Linked DNA regions of Homo sapiens. The protein of the gene in region 1 binds, or shares a complex with, the protein of each later gene. Each region holds a gene or a part of one and is shown in the gene's direction. Other genes may lie near its edges. The genes, in order: RHNO1 and RAD1.

What was found.
Region 2: the proteins of RHNO1 (region 1) and RAD1 are in contact, whole or in part, in a crystal structure (PDB 6J8Y), measured with the Homo sapiens proteins. Residues at the interface, in NP_001239428.1 of Homo sapiens: Ser55, Trp56, Val57, Ser58, Pro59, Asp60, Phe61, Asp62, Thr63; in NP_002844.1 of Homo sapiens: Asn47, Gly48, Ile49, Lys50, Phe64, Ile65, Gln66, Ser149 (codon at 3,489), Lys155 (codon at 3,507), Ile157 (codon at 3,513), Glu211 (codon at 5,872), Ala212 (codon at 5,875), Lys240 (codon at 6,268), Val241 (codon at 6,271), Ser242 (codon at 6,274), Arg244 (codon at 6,280), Gln254 (codon at 6,310), Tyr255 (codon at 6,313), Met256 (codon at 6,316), Phe266 (codon at 6,346), Glu268 (codon at 6,352).

The regions. Positions count from the first base shown.
Region 1 is NC_000012.12:2,870,634-2,881,984, forward strand, and holds the start of RHNO1 (RAD9, HUS1, RAD1-interacting nuclear orphan protein 1), read left to right. Parts: upstream 1-6,589; 5' UTR 6,590-6,649; intron 6,650-11,351. Other genes in the region: FOXM1 (forkhead box protein M1), read right to left, coding at 1,463-1,614, 3,344-3,845. UniProt on the Homo sapiens protein: Involved in microhomology-mediated end-joining (MMEJ) DNA repair by promoting recruitment of polymerase theta (POLQ) to DNA damage sites during mitosis.
Region 2 is NC_000005.10:34,904,088-34,915,163, reverse strand, and holds the end of RAD1 (cell cycle checkpoint protein RAD1), read left to right. Parts: intron 1-202; 5' UTR 203-271; coding exon 272-469; intron 470-1,585; coding exon 1,586-1,694; intron 1,695-3,351; coding exon 3,352-3,610; intron 3,611-5,807; coding exon 5,808-5,906; intron 5,907-6,215; coding exon 6,216-6,399; 3' UTR 6,400-9,569; coding exon of another isoform or gene 9,570-9,633; 3' UTR 9,634-9,904; downstream 9,905-11,076. UniProt on the Homo sapiens protein: Component of the 9-1-1 cell-cycle checkpoint response complex that plays a major role in DNA repair. The 9-1-1 complex is recruited to DNA lesion upon damage by the RAD17-replication factor C (RFC) clamp loader complex.

The DNA.
Region 1 (11,351 bases):
GCCTGGCAACAAAGAGAGAATCCGTCTCAAAAAGAAAAAAAAAGAGGCCGGGCGCAGTGGCTCACGCCTGTAATCCCAGCACTTTGGAAGGCCAAGGCAGGTGGATCACGAGGTCAGGAGTTCAAGACCAGCCTGGCCAACATAGTGAAACCCCATCTCTACTAAAAATACAAAAATTAGCCGGGCGTGGCAGCGGGCACCTGTAATCCCAGCTACTCAGAAGTCTGAGGCAGGAGAATCACTTGACCTGGGAGGTGGAGGTAGCAGTGAGCTGAAATCGCAGCACTGCACTCCAGCCTAGGAGACAGAGAAAGACTACGTCTCAAAAAAAAAAAAAAAAAAAAAAAAAGCAGGAGCTAAACATTGAGCACACATGGATATGAAGAAGGGAACACTAGACACCAGGGCCTTCTTGAGGGTGGAGAGTGGGAGGAGGGGGAGACAGAAAAACTACCTAGCAGGTACTATACTCACTACCTGGGTGACAAAATCATTTGTACACTAAACCCCAGCGACACACAATATACCCATGTAACACACCTGCACATGTACCCCCTGAACCTAAAATAAAAGTTGAGAAAAAAAAGAAAATAAAGGTTGAATGAGTGATTTACACATATATACAATAGAATCTAGATGTGTTATATTGGTAACTGTGGGAAAAAAACCCAGACTACACAATTGGGTTAGATCAATTTTGATTGCTAGAGAAGTATTTAAAATTCGTATCTAGGCCAGGCTGGTGGTTCACGCCTGTAATCCCAGCCCTTTGGGAGGCTGAGGCAGGAGGATCACTAGAGCCCAGGAGTTGAAATCAGCCTGGGCAACATAGCGAAACCCCATCTCTACAAAAAATACAAAAATTAGCTGGGCATGGTGGCATGCACCAAGCTGGCAAGTCCCAGCTACTTGGAAGACTGAGGTAGAAGGATCAGTTGAGCCCTGGAGGTCGAGGCTGCAGAGAGCCATGACTGCACCATTGCGCTCCAGCCTGGGCAACAGAGCAAGACGCTGTCTTAAAAAAAAAAAATATATATACGTGTATATATATAACTGACTTTATCTGCTATTAATATTATATCTTCTAATAAAATTAACTTGTTGTATTCTATTCAATTCATACTGTTCATACTGTTGGGAAGCATCTTTAAAGTTCAGGTGGATTCCCAAAATGAAGACCTCTTAATCATTTCCTGAATACCTACTAAGGACAAAATACTAAACCCAGTGCTGGCTGGAATACAGAGTGACCAAGGGACTCTGCCCTCAAGGAAATTTCACAGATGGGAGAGAAAAGATCCCAGGCAGAAAAATAGCTCAAAAGTTATGCAGAATAGCATGAAGTGGAGAGCTAATACCAGAACTTGGAAATTCTGGTCCATCAGGCCACTTGATCCATTTCCCTACCTAGGAATTCCCTACACTGGATCTGATTTCTTTAGTGAGGGACGGAACAATTCACCTTAACCTGTCGCTGCTCCAGGTGACAATTCTCCTTTTCCTCCATCTCTTGCTTGATGCTGCGGGAGCCCAGTCCATCAGAACTCATCTTTCGAAGCCACTGGATGTTGGATAGGCTATTGTTGATAGTGCAGCCTGCTGCCTCACCATCTGCTAGAGGGAAAATAATCCAACACCCCACTTAGCTGCCTCATCAGATGCCCAGGTGTGTCCATCAGAATTGGTGGCTAGCAGGCCGGGTGCAGTGGCTCACACCTGTAATCCTAGCACTTTGGGAGGGCGAGGCGGGTGGATCTCCTGAGGTCAGGAGTTCAAGACCAGCCTGGCCAACATGGTGAAACCTCGTCTCTACTAAAAATACAAAATTAGCTGGGTGTGGTGGCACACGCCTGTAGTCCCAGCTACTCAGGAGGCTGAGACAGGAGAATTGCTCGAACCCGGGAGACGAAGGCTGCAGTGAGCCAACATTGCGCCACTACACTCCAGCCTGAGTGAGACTCTGTCTCAGAAAAATAAAAAATAAAAAAGAAAGAATTGGTGGCTAGGGATCACTTGTCCAAGACCTCTGCCTTTAGGGACGGAGAACACATGCTGAATCTATTGTGGCTCTAAGTTACTCTGCCCCATTATGCATTTCAGGACAAATTTAGGAGCATAGTTCAAATTGCATTTCAAGCTGAGCCACACTGAGCCTTAGAGATCAATCAAGGCAGGCTTACAAAAGAATTATTGAGATATGCACACCAAAAAAGTCACTTTTCAGCCTGGGCAATATAGTGGGACCCCATCTCTGCAAAAAGAAAAAAAAAATTAACTGGGAATGATGGTGCATGCCTATAGTCCCAGCTACTTGGGAGGCTGATGTGGGAGAATGGCTTGAGTCCAGGCATTCGAGGCTAGAGTGAGCCGTGATTGCGCCACTGCACTCTAGCCTGGGTGACAGTGCGAGACCGCATCTCTAAAGAAAAAGTCATTTTCCTCCTCTTGCTTCAGTTTTCTCCTTTATCAAGAAGGAAAATGAGGCCAGGCGCAGTGGCTCACACCTGTAATCCCAGCACTTTGGGAGGCCGAGGTGGGCGAATCACCTGAGGTCAGGAGTTCAAGACCAACCTGGCTAACATGGCAAACCCCTGTCTCTACTAAAAAATACCAAAATTAGCCAGGTGTGGTGGCGGGTGCCTGTAATCCCAGCTACTCAGAAGGCTGAGGCAGGAGAATCACTTGAACCCAGAAGGTGGAGATTGCAGTGAGCTGAGATTGCACCACTGCACTACAGCTTGGGCAACAGAGCAAGACTCCATCTCAAAAAAAAAAAAAAAAAAAAGAAGGAAAATGAAGTCAGGCGCTGTCGTTCATGCCTATAATCCCAGCACCTTGGGAGGCCCATATGGTTGGATCCCTTGAGCTCAGGAGTCCGAGACCAGCCTGGGCAACATAGTGAGACCCCTTCTTCATTTATTTATTTTTGAGACCCCTTCTTTTTTCATTTTTATTTTTTTTTTTGAGACAGAGTCTCCCTCTGTGGCCAGGCTGGAGTGCAGTGGCATAATCTCAGCTCACTGCAACCTCCACCTCCCAGGTTCAGCGATTCTCCTGCCTCAGCCTCCAGAGTAGCTGGGACTACAGACGTGTGCCACCACGCTCGGCTAGTTTTTTTATATTTTTAGTAGAGACGGGTTTCACCATGTTGGCCAGGCTAGTCCAAACTGCTGACCTCAAGTGATCCGCCCGCCTCAGCCTCCCAAAGTGCTGGGATTACAGGGATGAGCCACTGTGCTCGGCCAGAAGCCTGACTGTTGTAAGCATCAAGACTGACTACACACCTTGCCACTACAGAGGAAAGGCTGGGCTCCCTCACCCCTTTCCCTGGAAGACCACATACCACAGGTCTCCCGTTTCTGCTCGCAAAGGGCTCCAGGTGGTCTAGGAAGATTCACATCCCTAGCTGCAGGTTTTGGTCCCAAGGTCTCCAGGGTCACTTCTGTCCTTTTGGCATCATAGCTGGTTTGGGTTTGAGGCCGGAGTCCTGGAGGCTGAGTTGGGGCTCCCCCACAGCTGATGAGGATGAATTTGTTGGGCCCACTACTGCCACTCTCTTTTCCCTTGGCAGTCAGTGCTGTGATGATGCTGTGAATATTAGCATTGTTGGGGATGGCCACTACTTGCGTGTTGGGCATGGTGGGGTGGTTAATAATCTTGATCCCAGCTGGAAACTTGCAAGAGTTGGACTCTGCCACTTCCTTGGAGGCCTCTGCTTGATTAGACTCCTGTTGGGCAGGGGATCTCTTAGGTTCCTCCTCTGATGTTTCACTTGGGGCATTTTGAACAGGAAGGGGCAGCCTCCGTCTTTTGAGAATCAGTGGCCGACGGGGGCTAGTTTTCATTATGAATCTGCGTTTTCACTCTCCATTGAGAATCACAAGTGTGGACCCTGGAAAATGCAAATAGTGGCAAGATGTTAGAGATTGTTTAGGCTGAGAAGAGGTCCTTTTAGAGAAAGGTGCTCCTCTTTATATGACCAGGAACATGAGCCTAAAGGCCCAGGTAAACATTCCATGGACTTTTGTAAAGACCTCAGATAATAAGGAGATAAGCTTTACTGACAAAAGAAGGCTAAAATTACAGCAGACAGAAGCAATTCAAAGGGCAAAAATGGGACTGGGTTGGAGATAAGACAAAGATCTCCTTGAAGCTTCAGAATATTTGGCTACAGAAATGGATGGGATAGCTACAAATATGTGGAAATCTCTATAATTGCCTACTATAATATAAATAGATCACTTGCAATGACTGTATGGACAGAAATGGAAGATGCTAGAATAGGAAAGCATATGGTAATTAGGAGTCCTGATGAAACTCTGATCCCATAATCCATTCAAGACAAAGGATTTTAATTTTTTTTTTTTTTTTTTTTTTGAGACAGAGTCTCACTTTGTCACCCAGGCTGGAGTGCAGTGGCACGATCTCAGTTCACTGCAACCTCTGCCTCCTGGGTTTAAGCGAGTCCCACGTCTCAGCCTCCTGAGTAGCTGGGATTACAGGTGCCCACCACCACGCCCGGCTAGTTTTTGTATTTTTAGTAGAGACAGGGTTTCACCATGTTGCTCAGGCTGGTCTCAAACTCCTGACCTCAGGTCATCTGCCCGCCTCGGCCTCCCAAAGTGCTGGGATTACAGGCGTGAGCCACCGCGTCTGGCCAAGCCTTTTGATTTTTATATTACTTTGTAAATAGGACCAGTGCACACAGAATCAGGGAAGAAAGGCAGATTGTACTATTGCCACACTACTGGAAAAATCATCTCCCAGTTTACAAAACCTCACATAAAATGGAAACCTCTACTGAAGGCCCATGTAAAGTTGTGCAGCTTGTGCACTGAACAACTCTAGAGGGTGACATTTATTTCACAGGCTATTATACTTGCTCTAATTTAAAAAGCATGTTTTCTTTTACAATTTGTATTGTATTTATACAGTGGCATTTTAGTACTTGCATGTGGTTATATATATTTTAACTAAGCATGCCACTTTATTAATTTCTTTTCCAGAAATAAGACTATAACCCCTGTCTTCTTAGTACCACAATGAGCTATCATCATTACACTAAGGTGGTTCTGAAATGCTAACAGTGTAGTCTTTTTTTTTTAAGTCTTTTGTTGATTTTTTTTAATTTTTTTTTTTTTTTTGAGACGGAGCTTCGCTCTTGTCACCCAGGCTGGAGTGCAATGGCGCAATCTCAGCTCACTGCAACCTCGGCCTCCCGGGTTCAAGCGATTCTCCTGCCTCAGCCTCCCGAGTAGCTGCAATTACAGGCATGCACCACCATGCCCAGCTAATTTTTTTTTTTTTTTTTTAGTAGAAACAGGGTTTCACCATGTTTGCCAGGCTGGTCTTGAACTCCTCAGGTGATCCACCCGCCTCGGCCTCCCAAAGTGCTGGGATTACAGGCGTGAGCCACTGCGCCCGGCCTTTTGTTGATTTTAATAGATACATGGAATATTCTACCATTAAGCAAAATTGTGTAATTCTATTTCACGGAACTTTGGAAGACAGAGGAATTGGCTGTCTCTTTTTTAGGACACTTATTCTCTCCCTGAAAAGCAACTGCACTTTTTTGACATTTGTCATCTGCATAGAGTTCACAGGCCCTCCACACCTCTACCTTCAAATCTCAGTTTTACTTTCACCTCCGATCTTTCCAGGCTTCCCTCTCTCCCCGCATCAATCAGTAGATATTATTCCTCTTTTTCCACAGGATATCTAAGTCTTAATTTTCTCTTCTACTTCCTGACCAGCCCGTTATTATTATTGCCAACACTTTCTTGCCCGGGAAACTTCCAGAGTGGCTCCTCCGACCCATCCCCATCCTGAGCGGGGAAATCTTGCTACATTCTCAAGAACCAGGAAAAGGGCCCTGCAAAAGGGTAAGTAAGATGGAGGCGGTGTTGCCTAGTGGTGAGACAGCCTGGGAGCAGGGGAGTGTGTATGCAGGTTGGTCTTTGACTCAATGTAGTACAATCTCAGTCTTCATCTCAGCCACAGTCGGCCTAAGAAGGTAGGCCACCCCAGCCCTCCCGAGGCCGCGGGCAGGGTGCGGAGGTCAGACTTCCAGGGAAGGCCAAGGGGCGCTTTAAGCAGTGAGAAGGCCACGGCCAGGAGGTGGACGCAGAAAAAACTTGCACCCTGGCTCAGATTCTTCCCGTGTGACCCAAATCTCCACTCGTGGCCCGTGCCCTGCTGCTAGACGCCCTGACCTCCGCGCCCGGAGGCCTTGCTCCCCGCCTGTGCCCAGGCCAGGCCTGGGACTCCATTGCTGCATCCCGCTCACCTCCAGACTGCAGTCGCCGCCGCCGTTAGGCCGTAGCTCCGAAGGCGGGCTCCGGGCTCCTCCAACCTGGGGGCCGAGCCAGGGCCCCGGACGGGGGCTCGCGCCGGACCGGCCGGGTCCCCGGCGGTGCGGGCGGGGTGGGAACCCCGGGGGATCCCGGGAGGGGAGGGGGTCCCGGGCCGGGGCCGGGGGTGGGGTCTGGCACCGGAGCTTTCAGTTTGTTCCGCTGTTTGAAATTGGCGCCGGCGGAGCGTTAAGGTCACGTGACGGAACGTCGCCAATCGGCGCCGGCCTTGTCTCGGCATTCCGGGCTCGAAGGCTGTGCGGTCTGCCAGGAGCTGCGGCCCCGTCCGGCCCGGGCTGGTAAGGCGGACCGCAGGCCGGCTTGTGGGGGAAGAAGTGGCCGTGGGGCCGGGGAGGGGCCGGAGGGGTCCCCGCCGCGTGGGTGGGCGAGCCGAGGGAGAGTTTGGGGACGCGCGGAAGCGGCGTGACAGGCCCGGGTCCCTGGGCCCGCTTTTCCTGCCGCGCTGGTCACGCCAGGCGACACGCCCCCGCTTCCCCTCAGGCTCCTCTGCTCCCCTTTTCAAAGCTCGGCTTTAGTTGATTTCCTCACTGGGGGAAATCGTACCCCATTTTCCCACAGTGAACGATCGTCTGCTCCCCCCGATTAGACTAAGTTCCTTTGAGGGCTGCGTATTATCTCCGCTTTCTTCCATCTTGAAAAAAAATGTCGGCACCATGAACCCTACCTCAGCGCGAAACCTGTCTTTTGCCCCTCCCGAAGCCAAGCCTTCGGATATAATAGACCGTAGTGCTTTATTTATTGACTTAGTCAACCAGTCTAGTTGAGCAACTGCTGTGCGCCAGGCACCGCTAGGCCCTGAAGATACAATGGCAGACAAGGTTCTTTCCTTCCCCTGGGCTCACAGCCCAATCCTGGAAGAGGGGCACAGACATTTTAATCAAATAAACAAATGTGGGCTGGGCATAGTGGCTCACGCCTGTAATCCCAGCACTTTAGGAGGCCGAGGCGGGTGGATCACTTGAGGTCACGAGTTCGAGACCAGCCTGGCAACATAGCGAAACCGCTTCTCTACTAAAAATTAGCCGGGCGTGGTGGTGCGTGCCTGTAGTCCCAGCTACTCTGGAGGCTGAGGTGGAAGGATCACCTGAGGCCGAGAGGTGGAGGCTATGGTAAGCCATGATCACACCACTGCACTCCAGCCTGGGCGACAGAGGGAGACACCGTCTCCAAAACAAACAAATGTTGAATTATTGCTGTAAATTGAAACATTAGAGGTTAATGATACTTTGAGTATTTACAATAACGAGATCTTGAGAGGTAGGACAGGAAAGGCTTTTGTAATGAGAGCTTGGTGTGAGATCTGATGCCTTTTACAAAGAAAGGAGGGAACTCCTCTAAGCAGAGGGAATCAGGCGTGCAAAGGCTGGATGGCAGGAGGAAGCACAGTGAGTACAAAGGCTGAGAAATATCTGAGGGGTTTGAGCTAATCGACCTGAATGGAGTGTGGTGTGAGTTGAAGCTGGAGCCGGAGGAAGCAGAGCCTTAGCCATACCGAGAAGTTTTGTGCTTATCCAAGAATTAAAGGAAACCAGTCATAAGCTTTAAGCAGAAGTGAATCCAGGTCAGATTTGCATTTTAAAAGGTCCCTCTATAGCGGGGATTGCTAGAGTGGATTAGGGCAGAACAGTTGGATGTTGCAATACTCCAGGCAAGAACTGCTGGAGCTTGAAAAAGGGTGGCAGGGAGAGAGAGAGAGGAAGAGAAAGAAGGAGACAGAGAGAGTAAAAAAGGGGCATTAAGAAAACATGTTTAAGAGGTAAAGTTGACAGGGCTTGATGGTGGGTTGGATGGGAGGTAGAAGTGTCAAGATTTTCAGCTGCATAACTGAAGGAATAATGACACTATTCCCTGACCAAGGGCCCTGGAAGATAATCACTTTGGCCAAGGGACGGGCGGGGGGTTGTCAGGGGAATGATCGTGAATTCAGTTTTTGTTTTTTTACTACAAAGCAATGCTCAGAATGAGTTTTTTTTTTAATTATATATTTATTTTTATTTATCTTTTTATTTTTTAGAGACAGGGTCTTGCTCTGTCCCCCAGGCTGAAGTCCAGTGGCATGACCTTGGCTCACTACAACCTCAACCTCCTGGGCTCAGGTGATCCTCCCACCTCAGCCTCCTGAATGGCTGGGACCCCCTACAGGCACATGCCACTACACCCATCTAATTTTTGTATCTTTTGTAGAGACAGGGTCTCACTCTGTTGCCCAGATTGATCTTGAACTATTCGGTTCAAGTGATCCTCCCACCTTCACCTTTCACAGTGTTGGCATTACAGGCATGAGCCACTGTGCGCGGCCAAGTTCAGTTTTAAACTTGTTGAATTTTTTTTTCTTTTCTTTTTTTGAAACAAGGTTCTGGCTCTGTCACTCAGGCTGGAGTTCAGTGGCACGATCTCGGCTCACTGCAGCCTCCACCTCCTGGGCTCAAGTGATCTGCCCACCTCAGCCTCCTGAGTAGCTGGGACTACAGGTGCACGCAGCCGTGCCCACCTGATTTTTTGTATTTTTTGTAGAATTTGGGTTTCACTGTGTTGCCCAGGCTGGTCTCAAACTCATGAGCTCAAGCGATCTGCCCACCCCGGCCTCTGAAAGTGCTGGGATTACAGGCGTGAGCCACTGCGCTCAGCCTTACACATGTTGAATTTGAGGTGCGTTTGAAATATCTAGTTGCTGTTCAGGTAGGTAATGGGATATTTGGGTCCCAAACTTAAGGAATTCTAAAATATATAAATATTGAAGTCATCTACTTCTAGGTGGATACTGAAATACAGGCAGATGAGTTTGCCTAAGAAAAGTATATAGAGTGAGAACAGCTCCAAAGCACAACCAGAGGGGAAGGACTTAGACAGCAGAATGAACTGACCTCTAATTAGAGCAGAAAGAAGATAGATGTTGATACGCATAGGTTTGTATATTTGCTTTCTGGAAAATGAGAGTATTTCCTTTGATGTCTTCTGTATTCTTTGTCAAGTAGGAAGTAAAGTCATTTGTTAAGAGAAAAGGGGTGTTCTGAAGTTCTAAGAAAGTGGGCAGGGTGTGGTGATTCACATGTAATCCTAGCACTTCAGGAGGCTGAGGGAGGAGAATCACTTGAGCCCAGGAGTTCAAGCAAGACCTCATCTCTACAAAAAATAAAATAAGAAACTAACCAGGTGTGGTGGTGCTTGTCTGTATTCCCAGCTATTCGGGAGGCTGAGGCAAGAGGATCTCTCGAGCCCAAGAGTTTGAGGCTGCAGTGAGCTATGATCGTGTCACTGTACTCCAGCCTGGGCAACAGAACAGGACCCCATCTCTAAAAATAATTTTAAAAATTAAAATAAAAATGTTCAGGCTGGGCGTGGTGGCTCACGCCTGTAATCCCAGCACTTTGGGAGGCCGAGGTGGGCAGATCACCTGAGGTCAGGAGTTCAAGACCAGTCTGGCCAACGTGGTGAAACCCCATCTCTACTAAAAAATACTATAATTAGCTGGGCGTGGTGAGGGCGCCTGTAATCCCAGCTACTTGGGAGAGTGAGGCAGGAGAATCGCTTGGACCTAGGAGGAGGTTGCAGTGAGCCGAGATCACGCTACTGCACTCCAGCCTGGGCAACAGAGTGAGACTTTGTCTCAAAACAAACAAACAAAATTTCCACTTTATTTATTTATTTTGAGATAGGGTCTGTCTGTCACCTAGGCTAGAGTGCAGTGGCACGATCATAGCTCACCATATCTTCAAATTCCCAGGCTCAAGTGATCCTCCCACCTCAGCCTCCCAAGTAGCTGGGACTACAGGTACATGCCAACATGCCAAGCTAATTATTCTTTTAAATTTGTAGTAGAGACGAGGTCTCTCTATGTTGCCCAGGCTGGTCTTGAACTCCTGGCCTCAAGCAGTCCTCCCATCTCAGCCTCCTAAAGTTCTGGGATTACAGGCGTGAGCTACTGCACCTAGCTTGGAGAAGTTTTAAGATAATCTTTGTGGAGAATGAGTTGATCAAGGAAACAGGATTGCTGAGCAACGTACCCATTTGAAGCTGATGACTTTCAGCAAGTCATGAATTTCAAAACTATAGCCATTGCTACCACTGTTATCTTTTCACTGGATTTCTGTGGTAGCTTTTTGTTTGTTTGTTTTCTAGACTGAATCTCGCTCTGTTGCCCAGGCTGGAGTGCAGTGGCGTGATCTCGGCTCACTGCAACCTCCGCCTCCCGGGTTCAAGCGATTCTCCTGTCTCAGCCTCCTGAGTAGCAGGGATTATAGGTGTGTGCCATGACGCCTGGCTAATTTTTGTATTTTTAGTAGAGATGGGGTTTCACCATGTTGGGCAGGCTGGTCTTGAACTCCTGACTTCAAGTAATCTGCCCGCCTCAGCTCCCTAAACTGCTGGTATTAAGGGCATGAGCCACTGCGCCCGGCCTCTCTATACTTTTTATTCCTTTCCGACTAGAATGTAAGCACCACAAGGGCAGAGGTTTTATGTTATTCTCTGGTATATATTTTCAGCACCTGGAACAGTGCCTAGCACACAGTAGGCACTCAGTAAATATTTCTCAAGTGAATGAATGAGTGAATGAACAAATGGATATATATATTTTTTGTGTTTTCTATAAGATGTTAGTTCCTTAAGAATAGAAACTTTGGCTGGACATGGTGGCTCACGCCTGTAATCCCAGCACTTTGGGAGGCCGAGGCGGGTGGATCACGAGGTCAGGAGTTCGAGACCAGCCTGGTCAACATAGCGAAACCCCGTCTCTACTAAAAATACAAAAATTAGCTAGGCATGGTGGCGTGCGCCTGTAGTCCCAGCAACTCATGAAGCTGAGGCAGGAGAATCGCTTGAACCCAGGAGGTAGAGGTTGTGGTGAGCCAAGATCGCGCCACTGTACTCTAGCCTGCGTAACAGAGCAAGACTCCATCAAAAAAAAAAAAAAGAAAGAAAAAAAGAGAAACTGTGTCCTTTTTTTTCTTAACCTGTATCTCTACTGCCTAGTCATATAAG
Region 2 (11,076 bases), on another chromosome or scaffold:
CGTTATTGTCCTCTTACGGAGACGAGGAAACCGTAGCTTAGATAATTTTCCTCCAGAATTACAAAGATAGTTAAGTGACATAGGTGGGGTTCGGCCTGGTCAGCCGTGTTCAGCCTCCCAGCCCCTTTCCACCTCTCAGCGCAGGTGGAGCTCGCCGGACCTCGCCAGCACTGATGGGAGTTTTACTGTCTAATCCCTTCAGGTGTTTGGCGATCCGCCGAGAAGTTGTTGGCCCCAGGAGCATCCCTCGGGGCCGAATGCGCAGTGGACGATGCCCCTTCTGACCCAACAGATCCAAGACGAGGATGATCAGTACAGCCTTGTGGCCAGCCTTGACAACGTTAGGAATCTCTCCACTATCTTGAAAGCTATTCATTTCCGAGAACATGCCACGTGTTTCGCAACTAAAAATGGTATCAAAGTAACAGTGGAAAATGCAAAGTGTGTGCAAGCAAATGCTTTTATTCAGGTATGGAAGTAGGCGCCTTTAAGCCTGTGCCATAGATACTCTAAATGTAATTTAATGAAATCGGAAGGTTTCAGTAGACAAAATAACTTAATAGTCATAATAACTTGTCAATAGTCATAATAAATAACTTAATAAATAAATAATAGTCTTAAGTTAGAGAACAAAACGTCATTACTTGAATTTTTTTTCTCTCCCGGTAACAAATTCTTTTCCCATCTTGTTTTACAGAGATAATGGTTAGTAATGACTAAAGTTTATTAAACTAGGCTATTGGCTAGGCTACAGTCTTCTTATTGTTTAACTTATTTAATCTTAACAATAGTCCTGTAAGGTAGGTTCTGTTATTATTCCCGTTTTATATATGTGGAAACGAGGCACAATTTTAAGTGATTTGCCAACAGTCCCACAGCTGGTAAGTGGCTGAATTGGGATAAGAACGCTGAATATTTGTTTCCAGAATATATGCTCTTTTTTCCACTGCGATATGCTATTACTAAAGAGTATTTTTTTCCTTTACTGGTTGTAATAGAATTTTTGTTCTTCCAAAGTAATATTTGTGTGGTTCAGATAGGATTGCAAGTTCAACTAAGCGTTTTTTAACACGTAAGTGCACAGCATGATCTCAGGGATAGAGAGGTAAATAAGACACGGTTCTTGTCCTCATGCAGGGGCATGGTATGGTGGCTCACACCTGTATTTCCAGCTGCTCAGGAGACCGAGGCTGAAGCACGAAGATCGCTTGAGCTCAGGCATTAAAGACCAGCCTGGGTAATCATAGTGAGACCCCCGTATCAATAAAAAATCATAATAAAAGTTGAAACTAATGTTGCTCATGCATTATCAAGTCATTCGTCTATTTTCCAAGTGACCTTAGCAGTAGTGATAGGCACAAAAACGAGACAAGGGAGAGTCACAGAGGGATAGTTTTAGATCCAGGAATGGAGATAAGGATGCTTCAAAGGATGTCTCTAAGATGTTTTGATTGCTAATCAGAAATTATTCTCATGGGATTAGCACAGTATTGTATTTTTTAAACGTATAAAGTGAAATCTAGGACCTTATATTATTAGTTTTTATTCTTTTATGTAACAATTTTCATTTTTACTCTTTTCATAGGCTGGAATATTTCAGGAGTTTAAAGTTCAGGAAGAGTCTGTTACTTTTCGAATTAATTTAACTGTCCTTTTAGACTGTTTATCTATTTTTGGATCAAGTCCTATGCCAGGTAAACTATGATCAGTATAAAGACATAAAAGTGTTATACATAGTGGTCAGAAAAATACAGGAAGTTATTTGGAACATAAACATTGGTTCAGAAAGCTAATGCCAATTCATTTTTCAGTGGCCACAGTCATGGGTTCTAACATTTCACAATGTTAATTGCAAGTGTGTTTATAATTCTTTTCATATTTGTAAAAGTATTTGCATTTTTTTTTTAATTTACAAGGCTTTGAGGGATTGTAAATTCGAACTGGCCAAAAGAATACTTTGGACATGTCTTAAATATTTTTAGCATTGTGAAATGTTTTAATTGCTTCTTTTTCCTAACTTGTCCAGAATTACTCCGCTAGTTAGTGGCAGAGAAAAACAAAAGCCAGTTCTGACTCCTAGTTTACTATGTTCAAAATTTGTTTCTTTTAAGCCATATTTTATAAGTTATGTCTATTTTGCCAAATGATTTTGTGGTGTTTTTGAGACAGAGTTTCTCTCTTGTTGCCCAAGCTGCAGTACAATGGCACAGTCTCAGCTCACTGCAACCTCTGCCTCCCGGGTTCAAGTGATTCTTCTGCCTCAGCCTCCCGAGTAGCTGGGATTACAGGCACGTGCCACCACGCCCGGCTAATTTTTTGTATTTTTAGTAGAGATGGGGTTTCACCATATTAGCCAGGCTGGTCTCAAACTCCTGACCTCAGGTGATCTGCCCGCCTCAGTCTCTCTAAGTTCTGGGATTACAGGCATAAGCCACCGCAACCGGTTGCCGAATGATTTTCTTTAAAATATATATTTTTTTATTTGTTAAGGGAATTTTTAAGAATGGTGAAATTGAATTGCTGTGGGTATAAAACTAAGGAATCCCCAGAAGAATGATTTTATTTCATAGGAAAGCAACCTGGAGATTAGCTAGGAAAAATTCAATATAGTTCTCCAGAAAAATGTATTTTACGTTTCCACAGACAATTCCACTATTATTAATTATACATTTTCTAATACAGTGTTCTCCAGCTAGTTTTTCACAGAAGCATCTGTCATCTTCCATTCCTCACTGTGGCTCTCAATCCAGTAAGGAGAAGGAGTTTGAATATCCTGTCATATTCCTCCTTCCCTCTAGTGGTTTGCAGAGTTAAAATTTACACCACCATTAACAACCCTCTTTTTCTCTCAATTTGATTTTTAAATTCGAGGAAATATAAAGAATATCTCCCAGTTGGAAAAGTTGGAAGGATCCTTGTCATAGTGAGTACACTGACGTTACAGTACAGATGACAGCAATCCACTGTTACACACATTGAACCTTCAAGGAATAGCATACCCTGTTCTGCAGCAATTTAGTTACTTGCTGTGTTGATCCATATAGATTCTCTACCCTGAAATTGTACATATATAAAATCAACAAGCTATTTCTGAGGTGTGTATGACAACCTGAAAATGATTCCAAAGAATTATGTTACATTTTGTTCTGGTTCCCAATTTTCTTGTAGTTTTGGAATTCTCTACACACAACTGTCATCAGGGAAGATGTCATCCCTTTTTATGAGGAGATACATATATGTGAGAAATTGGGCGGAATAAATTATTCTTGAGAAATTTTATGTATCATTTCGAGGAGAAGCTGAACCCAGAACTATAAAGCTAAGGCCAAGTATGACTTCTTTCCATTGCAGGGACTTTAACTGCACTTCGAATGTGTTACCAAGGTTATGGTTACCCTTTGATGCTGTTCCTGGAAGAAGGAGGAGTGGTGACAGTCTGCAAAATCAATACACAGGAACCTGAGGAGACCCTGGACTTTGATTTCTGCAGCACCAATGTTATTAATAAAATTATTCTGCAGTCAGAGGGGCTCCGTGAAGCATTTTCTGAATTGGATATGACGAGTGAAGTCCTACAAATTACCATGTCTCCTGACAAGCCTTATTTCAGGTACTTGAGAGCAGTGCAGTTATAGTTAATGTGGTCTGTACTCCATCTTCCCACTTAGACATTTGCTTAGGATGCAAAATTTTTATTATCCACATTTTTAGAGTTTTCACAACTTTAGACAGCTTGTACTCTTACCTCATAATTTTATGGATCAAGAAACTTAAGACCCAGGAAGATTAACTCACTATTTCATATTTAGGTGGTGGTGGCATCTAGATGAGAAGCCCAGTCCTCTAATTTATAAACTGGTGGTGTTTTCATTGTACTACTCCTTACTTTCATAGATCAGGTTACATCATGAGGAAAATTGGGTTTAAGTGTTTGGAAAGGGTGTTTGTATTATGGTATCTTTTTCAAGTTAGTTCAGGATGCAGAAGAAGATGTTTTCTACACGTGGCTCATTCATTCACTAAGTATCTGTTGATCACCTACCGTGTGCTTATTCATCTTATTAAGCATTGTGGGAAGAACAGCTTAAAACCAAGGTGAAGCCAAGAAAATGTGAAACAGCAAACCATTAAGTACCAAGATAGCACACACAGATACCTGGGAAATGCTGTATAAGGATTTAGGGAGGATTGCTCAAGGCTGGCTTCCCAAGGGAGGGCAGTTTTCAGCAGGAGTACAATGTCAAAAAAGCTGTTCTTGATAGTTTAACACAAGTCTCTTTTCAGGATTAGACTCAGAGATTCTAGCAATTTAGAGAGAGGATCTAAATATTCTCTTTTTGAAATATTTCAGAATATTAAAGCCCCTAAATACATATGGAATAAAAGGAATAAGGTATTCTTTTTGTAACTACTTTAGAAGAATTACAGGCCCGGCTGTAAAAGTGCTGTGGCAGACACCTGTAATCCCAGCACTTTGGGAGGCCGAAGTGGGCAGATCACTTGAGGTCAGGAGTTCAAGACCAGCCTGGCCAATGTGGTGAAACCCTGTCTCTACTAAAAATAGAAAAATTAGTTGGGCGTGGTGGCACGTGCCTATAATCCCAGCTACTTGGGAGGCTGAGGTGGGAGAATCACTTGAACCCAGGAAGTGGAGGTTGCGGTGAGCTGAGATTGCGCCACTGCACTCCAGCCTGGGTGACAGAGTGAGAATCTGTCTCAAAAAAAAAAAAAGAAAAGAAAAAGAATCACAGGCCCTTGTCATGACTTTGGGGAGTTAAAAATTTGGCTCAAGGTCTGAGAAAGTTAACCAAAATGGAAATTGGAAACCTTACTTTAGCAGTGGAATGAAGTAAAAAATTCAGGTACTTAAAACAGTATTTCAGGGGATCTCCTCAGTGATCTCTCTCAGCCTGGGTAACGAGATGGACCATGGTATCTTTCATCTCCAGGATGGGAAACAATTTGGTGGTAGGGAGGTAGGAGTTGAAATTTTTTCCTGGATATGTTAAATTTTAAGTACCTGCGACACTAGGGAGTGGCTGGATATGTAGTTATGGTGCTCAGGAGATCCATTTAGACTGGAAATTTAGATTTGGGAACCATCATCATGGCTGGGTATGGATGAGACGGGTCAGAGAGAGAGATTATATTAGAAGAAAGAAAAGATGGACCCCAGGAAAACCACACCTGGAAGATGGGAGGCAGAAATGGAGCTTAGGGAAAACCAACCTGGATCTTATCGCCATGCTCATATAATACTTAGCAACGTGCTAATCCTGCAGCAAATGTTCCAGGAGTTCTTGCAAATTAAATCAGCATGTTAACACTTATAAATTGTCTACAAATAACTTCTGGTATTACCAAGTGAGGAAAACCATGCAATAGCCTTAAGAGCAGTCTAAGATACAGAAAAGCTGTAATTCCTAGGTGTAGGATTGGGAACAGACCTAAGGGTTGCAGTAGACTTAGATCAAGGTCTTCCATGAGTCCTCAATTCTCTCGCCTGTTATATATTTCTGACTTAAGGATGAGGAAAAGTCATTTTCAGAGTAGGATTAGGGTAATGAAATTAAAGTGTCCCCTACCCTTTTCCTTTTACAATTGATTTTCTTCAAACCCATTGATTAGTTGTCCTGAACTCCAGTGGGAGCTTTATTATGGTACTTGTTATCGTGTGTTATAAGCATTTGTGTACATGTCTGTTTCACCCACTAGTATGAATTTCTTAAGGAAGTGTTTTCTTTATTTGGATCCTAATGTGGTTTATTTTTGGATGAATGAATAAATGAGGTAATCATTTTCTATAGGTTATCTACTTTTGGAAATGCAGGAAGTTCCCACCTTGACTATCCCAAAGATTCTGATTTGATGGAAGCATTTCATTGTAATCAGACCCAAGTCAACAGGTCAGTTCTTAATATAGAGGTTGTCATTGGTGATAAAGAGGAGGTTAAATACCAGATTTCTGTTAAATAAAAACACTTTCAATCTGTTAATTAAAATGCACAGCATTTTATAAAAATGAATAGTAGAGTGCTGGACTTACTAGGGGATGTAGGGTTCTAACAGTGAATGAATTTTAAAACAGAAAATATTAGCAAATTGGATAAGTACTTGATTTTATTCTTAGATTTGCTACTTTTTATCCTTTACTTGGGAGTTCTGAGCAGTGTTCACTGTGTTGATATAACAGCGTTTTATTTTTTCTTCTACAGATACAAGATTTCCTTACTGAAACCCTCTACAAAGGCATTAGTCCTATCTTGTAAGGTATCTATTCGGACAGATAACAGAGGCTTCCTTTCATTACAGTATATGATTAGAAATGAAGATGGACAAATATGTTTTGTGGAATATTACTGCTGCCCTGATGAAGAAGTTCCTGAATCTGAGTCTTGAGTATGACAATTCACTGATATTTATGTGTACATTTATGATAGATGAAGTTCTTATTCTGAGTACAGTACTCTTTGTCATTTCATATTGGATTTTCTATAGAGAAGAAGCACAATGGGGAAGATAGGAGCAAGGTCATGTACCCTAATAGTTACTATGTTTTGTAAATCCATTTTGTAGAGGGCATGTAAATAAATGTTTTCCTGTAGTCATAGATTATTCAGGACTGTCCTTTAGTTCTGTCTTTTGAACTCATGGGAATAATTGTGAGTCAGCGTAACATTTCAAGAGTCTAAAGGTGGCCGGGTGTGGTGGCTTTAATCCCAGCACTTTGGGAAGCCGAGGTGGGCGGATCACCTGAGGTCAGGAGTTCGAGACCAGCCTGACCAACGTGGAGAAACCCCATCTCTACTAAAAATACAAAAAATTAGCCGGACGTGGTGGCACATGCCTGTAATGCCAGCTACTCGGGAGGCTGAGGCAGGAGAATTGCTTGAACCCGGGAGGCGGAGGTTGTGGTGAGCTGAGATGACGCCATTGCACTCCAGCCTAGGCAATAAGAGCAAAACTCTGCCTCAAAAAAAAAAAAAAAAAAAGTCTAAAGGCTTAAAGTTTGATGCAGCTACCTGAAATGATCTTTTATTTATTTATTATTAGAAAAAGCAAAGGCATATGGGCATTGCTTATTAGTTTGAATTCTAGAGACTAGATCTTAAAGTAGTGGTTCTCAAAGTGTTGTGCCCGCACCAACATCAGAATGGCCTGCAAACTTGTAGCAAACTCTGGGGAGGAGGCCAGCATTCTGTATTTTAACAAGCTTCCCTCAGGAGATTCTGATGCCTGCTAAATTTTGGGAACCACTGTTTTAAAGGAAACTTTTTTTTTCTTTAATAGCATTTAATTGTATGAGATGATTGCTTTTACATGTGATTTCCTTGCAAATGTTCTGAAGTTGAGGCATCACCAAACAAGTCTGAACAATTCTTTATGTGATTTATTTTTAAAGTAGACCTTTTGAAGAGATCTATGAATGGGATATAAAGCAATTTTCAGTGTTACAGGTTTTCTTCTTCTTCTCAAAACTGTTTGCTGTAAGTAACTGCAATCAGTACTTACTACTTTCCATTTGCTTATGAGTTTCTTGACAAATCAAGGTGTAGAAAACCAGTTATTAAGTGATTTTGTACTTTCCTGGTAGTTGTCACTAAAATAATTTTTGTGGCATATAAATATATTTAATAAAATGCAAAAATTATCTTCCTGTCTAGTAGAAAAAATTACATGAGTAAAGTGAAGCTTCTGTCTTTGTTACTGTACCAGGTGACAACAGCTGAGTGTCCCTCCATGGACAGTCACTATTGGCCTTTTGAGTGAGACAGTTCTTTAGGATAAAAACCTGTCATCCCATTGCAGGATTCATTTAGCCTTTCTGGCCCTTACCCACTGATGCTAGTCATTGTGACCACCCCACCTCCCCCAAATAAAAGTGTGCCAAACTATTCATTGTTGAGAACCATTCAATTGTATTCACCAAAATTGGAGGATATATTGGAATGCCCTACCTTAATATAGGTCACATAGCATTAGAGAAAATTGGTTTGGAGAGTATTACAGCAAAGTGTGCTGCAAGGAGGCTACTCCAGCACAATGGCAGGCACTGCTTCCCAGGCATATGGACAATTCTGGGAGGTGGCCAGGGTCAGCACCTGATAACTAGTAAGTGTCTCAATCTCAGCATACAAAATTTAGCAGTGACTACAAAAGAAGTTGGAATTTTCTAAAATGTTTGTATTCAAGAAGGAAACAAATGAATTTACTAAATGTTGTCAGAGTATTTTTTGTTTAGATAACCACCAAGAACAGAACAAACCTAAAAGATACTTGGGAAAATATCTAATCAGTCAACATTCTAAGGACTGTTAAATGTGAAATAGCATAGTTATTTTTTGTCTTTTGTTACTAGTGTGAACAAAGAACGGCGCCTAACATATAATGGGCATTTAGTAACTCTGTTAGATGAAAGACTCTCCAATTTCAGATTTTCTTTTAGCATCTTATTAGTCACTACTTAATTCTGATGATTTAGCTCTAAATTTATTTTGATCTCAGTTTTTTTATTTTTATTTTTGGAGACAAGATCTTGCTCTGTTGCCCAGGCTGGAGTACAGTTGTAGGATTACAGTTCACTCCAGCCTCAATCTCCTAGGCTCAAGCAATCCTCCCATCTCAGCTTCCCAAATAGCTACGACTACAGGTGCATGCCTCCATGCCCTGCTAATTTTTGTATTTTTTGTAGAGATGGGGTTTTACTATGTTCCCTAGGCTAATCTTGAACTCCTGAGCTCAAGCAATCCACCCGCCTCGGCCTCCCAAAGGGCTGGGATTACAGGCGTGAGCTATCATGCCTGGCCTAATGTATTTTTTAAAAGTTGAATCTAAAAAGAATTTAAAACAAATATAAATCAGCTCAGTAAGGATGGATATTTTTGTACATTTAAAACTATTATTTTAGGCCGGGAGTGGTGGCTCACACCTGTAATCCCAGCATTTTGGGAAGCCGAGGCAGGGGGATCATCTGAGGTCAGGAAGTTCGAGATCAGCCTGGCCAACATGGTGAAACCCCTACCTCTACTAAAAATACAAAAATTAGCTGGGTGTGGTGGTGGGTGTCTGTAATCCCAGCTACTTGAGAGGCTGAGGCAAGAGAATCACTTGAAACTGGAAGGCGGGGGTTGCAGTGAGCCGAGATTGCACCATTGCACTCCAGCCTGGGTGACAGAGCAAGACTCCGTCTCAAAAACAAAAAAAATTAAAATAAAAATTATTGTTTTAGCTGCATGTCTTCAGCTATTTAGAATTCAAAGACTAATGAATTGTTTCTAAGTCACCCTAACATCAAGGTACTTATTTTATAAAGAATTTCCTCCTTATTTGTGTTCTAATTGACCCAGGAATTTTTACTTTAATAAAAGTTTAACTTTATTTCCTATGGAAAATCACTAGGGGGAGTGCTCCCTCAGGCAGAGCAGGCGACACTTTGGTGCCACTACAAATTGATGTGTAGTATATAGAAGAATACAGTCTTATATTTAAAGACTTTTAGTTCTGTCTTTTTGAAGTTTATCTCTCTTTCTAGTAAAATGGTGCTTACTGTGAATGGATAATCTTTTTTTTCATTTTTCATTTGTTGATTTCCCATTCGATGATGTAGTGCTTCCACCGAGAATTGATGAAATGCTTCAAAATAATAAAAGTATTTGTTAAATTCCACTTTAATAAAAATAAGGCATGTAACACAGTCATTTTAACAGGAAGCCACAGGGTTTCTGTGGTGTTACCAAAGTCCTAGTAAAAATTAATTAAAATTGCTAAAAGGGCAGAATGTGGCACTCTCAACAGTGGGGTAGGCAGTCCTTCAGAACATAGAGACTTCCTTCTTTCCTTCCCTGTCTTCACATTGCTTGTCCCTTATCCCCACCTGAAATAAAATCTATTGGGTCCTGAGAAATCGGAGTGTATAGTATTTTTTCTTTTCCCAATTATGTTTGTAATTTGCTTTCATTCTCTTTGGAATAGGCAGTGCTGCTTTTATACTAGAATCAGGTTACAAGCACCCCAGGAGGAGTCATTAGCTTTAACAGAATTTCCCTCTCAGGAGTGGACAGCTAGTGTTCTAAACAGAAACACCAAAAGCAGCGGTTTCAAGTGCTTTTCGTATCTGTATCTCAGTCACGTCCAGAGATTTCGATAATCAGCAGAGTAAATGTGTGAAATATATTTTTGAAATTCATAGCTTGTTGATCATTATAATAGATACTAGTAGTGGCTCTCACTGGCAAAACTAGAGGTATTCAGGATATGTGAACTTACTAAATTATTTCAGAGTATTTCCTCATACTAAAGTAAAAAGGAAGTAACAATCTAGTAAACCCTGTGGCCTGTACCCTTAGGCATGGTGCCTGACACTTGATTCCAAAATGGTCTTGCTTCCTGCCATTTTGTCCAAGGATTTTGGTTGCCGTGGCTGACTACGTTAGGACAGTACTATTTCTGGAATATTGTCAAGCCTGCCTTAAGTGGACCTTTAATGCAGTGGTGGGTGAACTTACCAAATCAGCAGGTAGTACGTCATTGAACATACAGAACAGGTTACATAAACTTTTTTTTTTTTTTTTGAGATGGAGTCCCACTCTGTTGCCAGGCTGGAGTGCAGTGGTGCGATCTCAGTTCACTGCAACCTCCACCTCCCAGGTTCAAGCGGTTCTCCTGCCTCAGCCTCCCGAGTAGTTGGGACTACAGGTGCATGCCACCACATCGAGCTAATAATTGTATTTTTAGTAGAGATGGGGTTTCACCATGTTGGCCAGGATGGTCTCGATCTTTTGACCTTGTGATCCTCCTGCCTCAGCCTCCCAAAGTGCTGGGATTACAGGTGTGAGCCACCACACCCAGCCGTTTACATAAACTTTTTTGTTTGCTTGCTAAAAAATGTTTATTGAGCTAGGTGTGGTGGCTCTCACCTGTAGTCCCAGCACTTTGGGAGGCCGAGGCAGGAGGACCATTTTAGCCCAGGAGTTTTGAGACTAGTCTGGCCAACATAGCAAGACTCCATCTCTAAAAAAAATTTTTTTTTTTTAATTAGCCAGGTGTGGAGTATGCATGTAGTCCCAGCTACTCCAG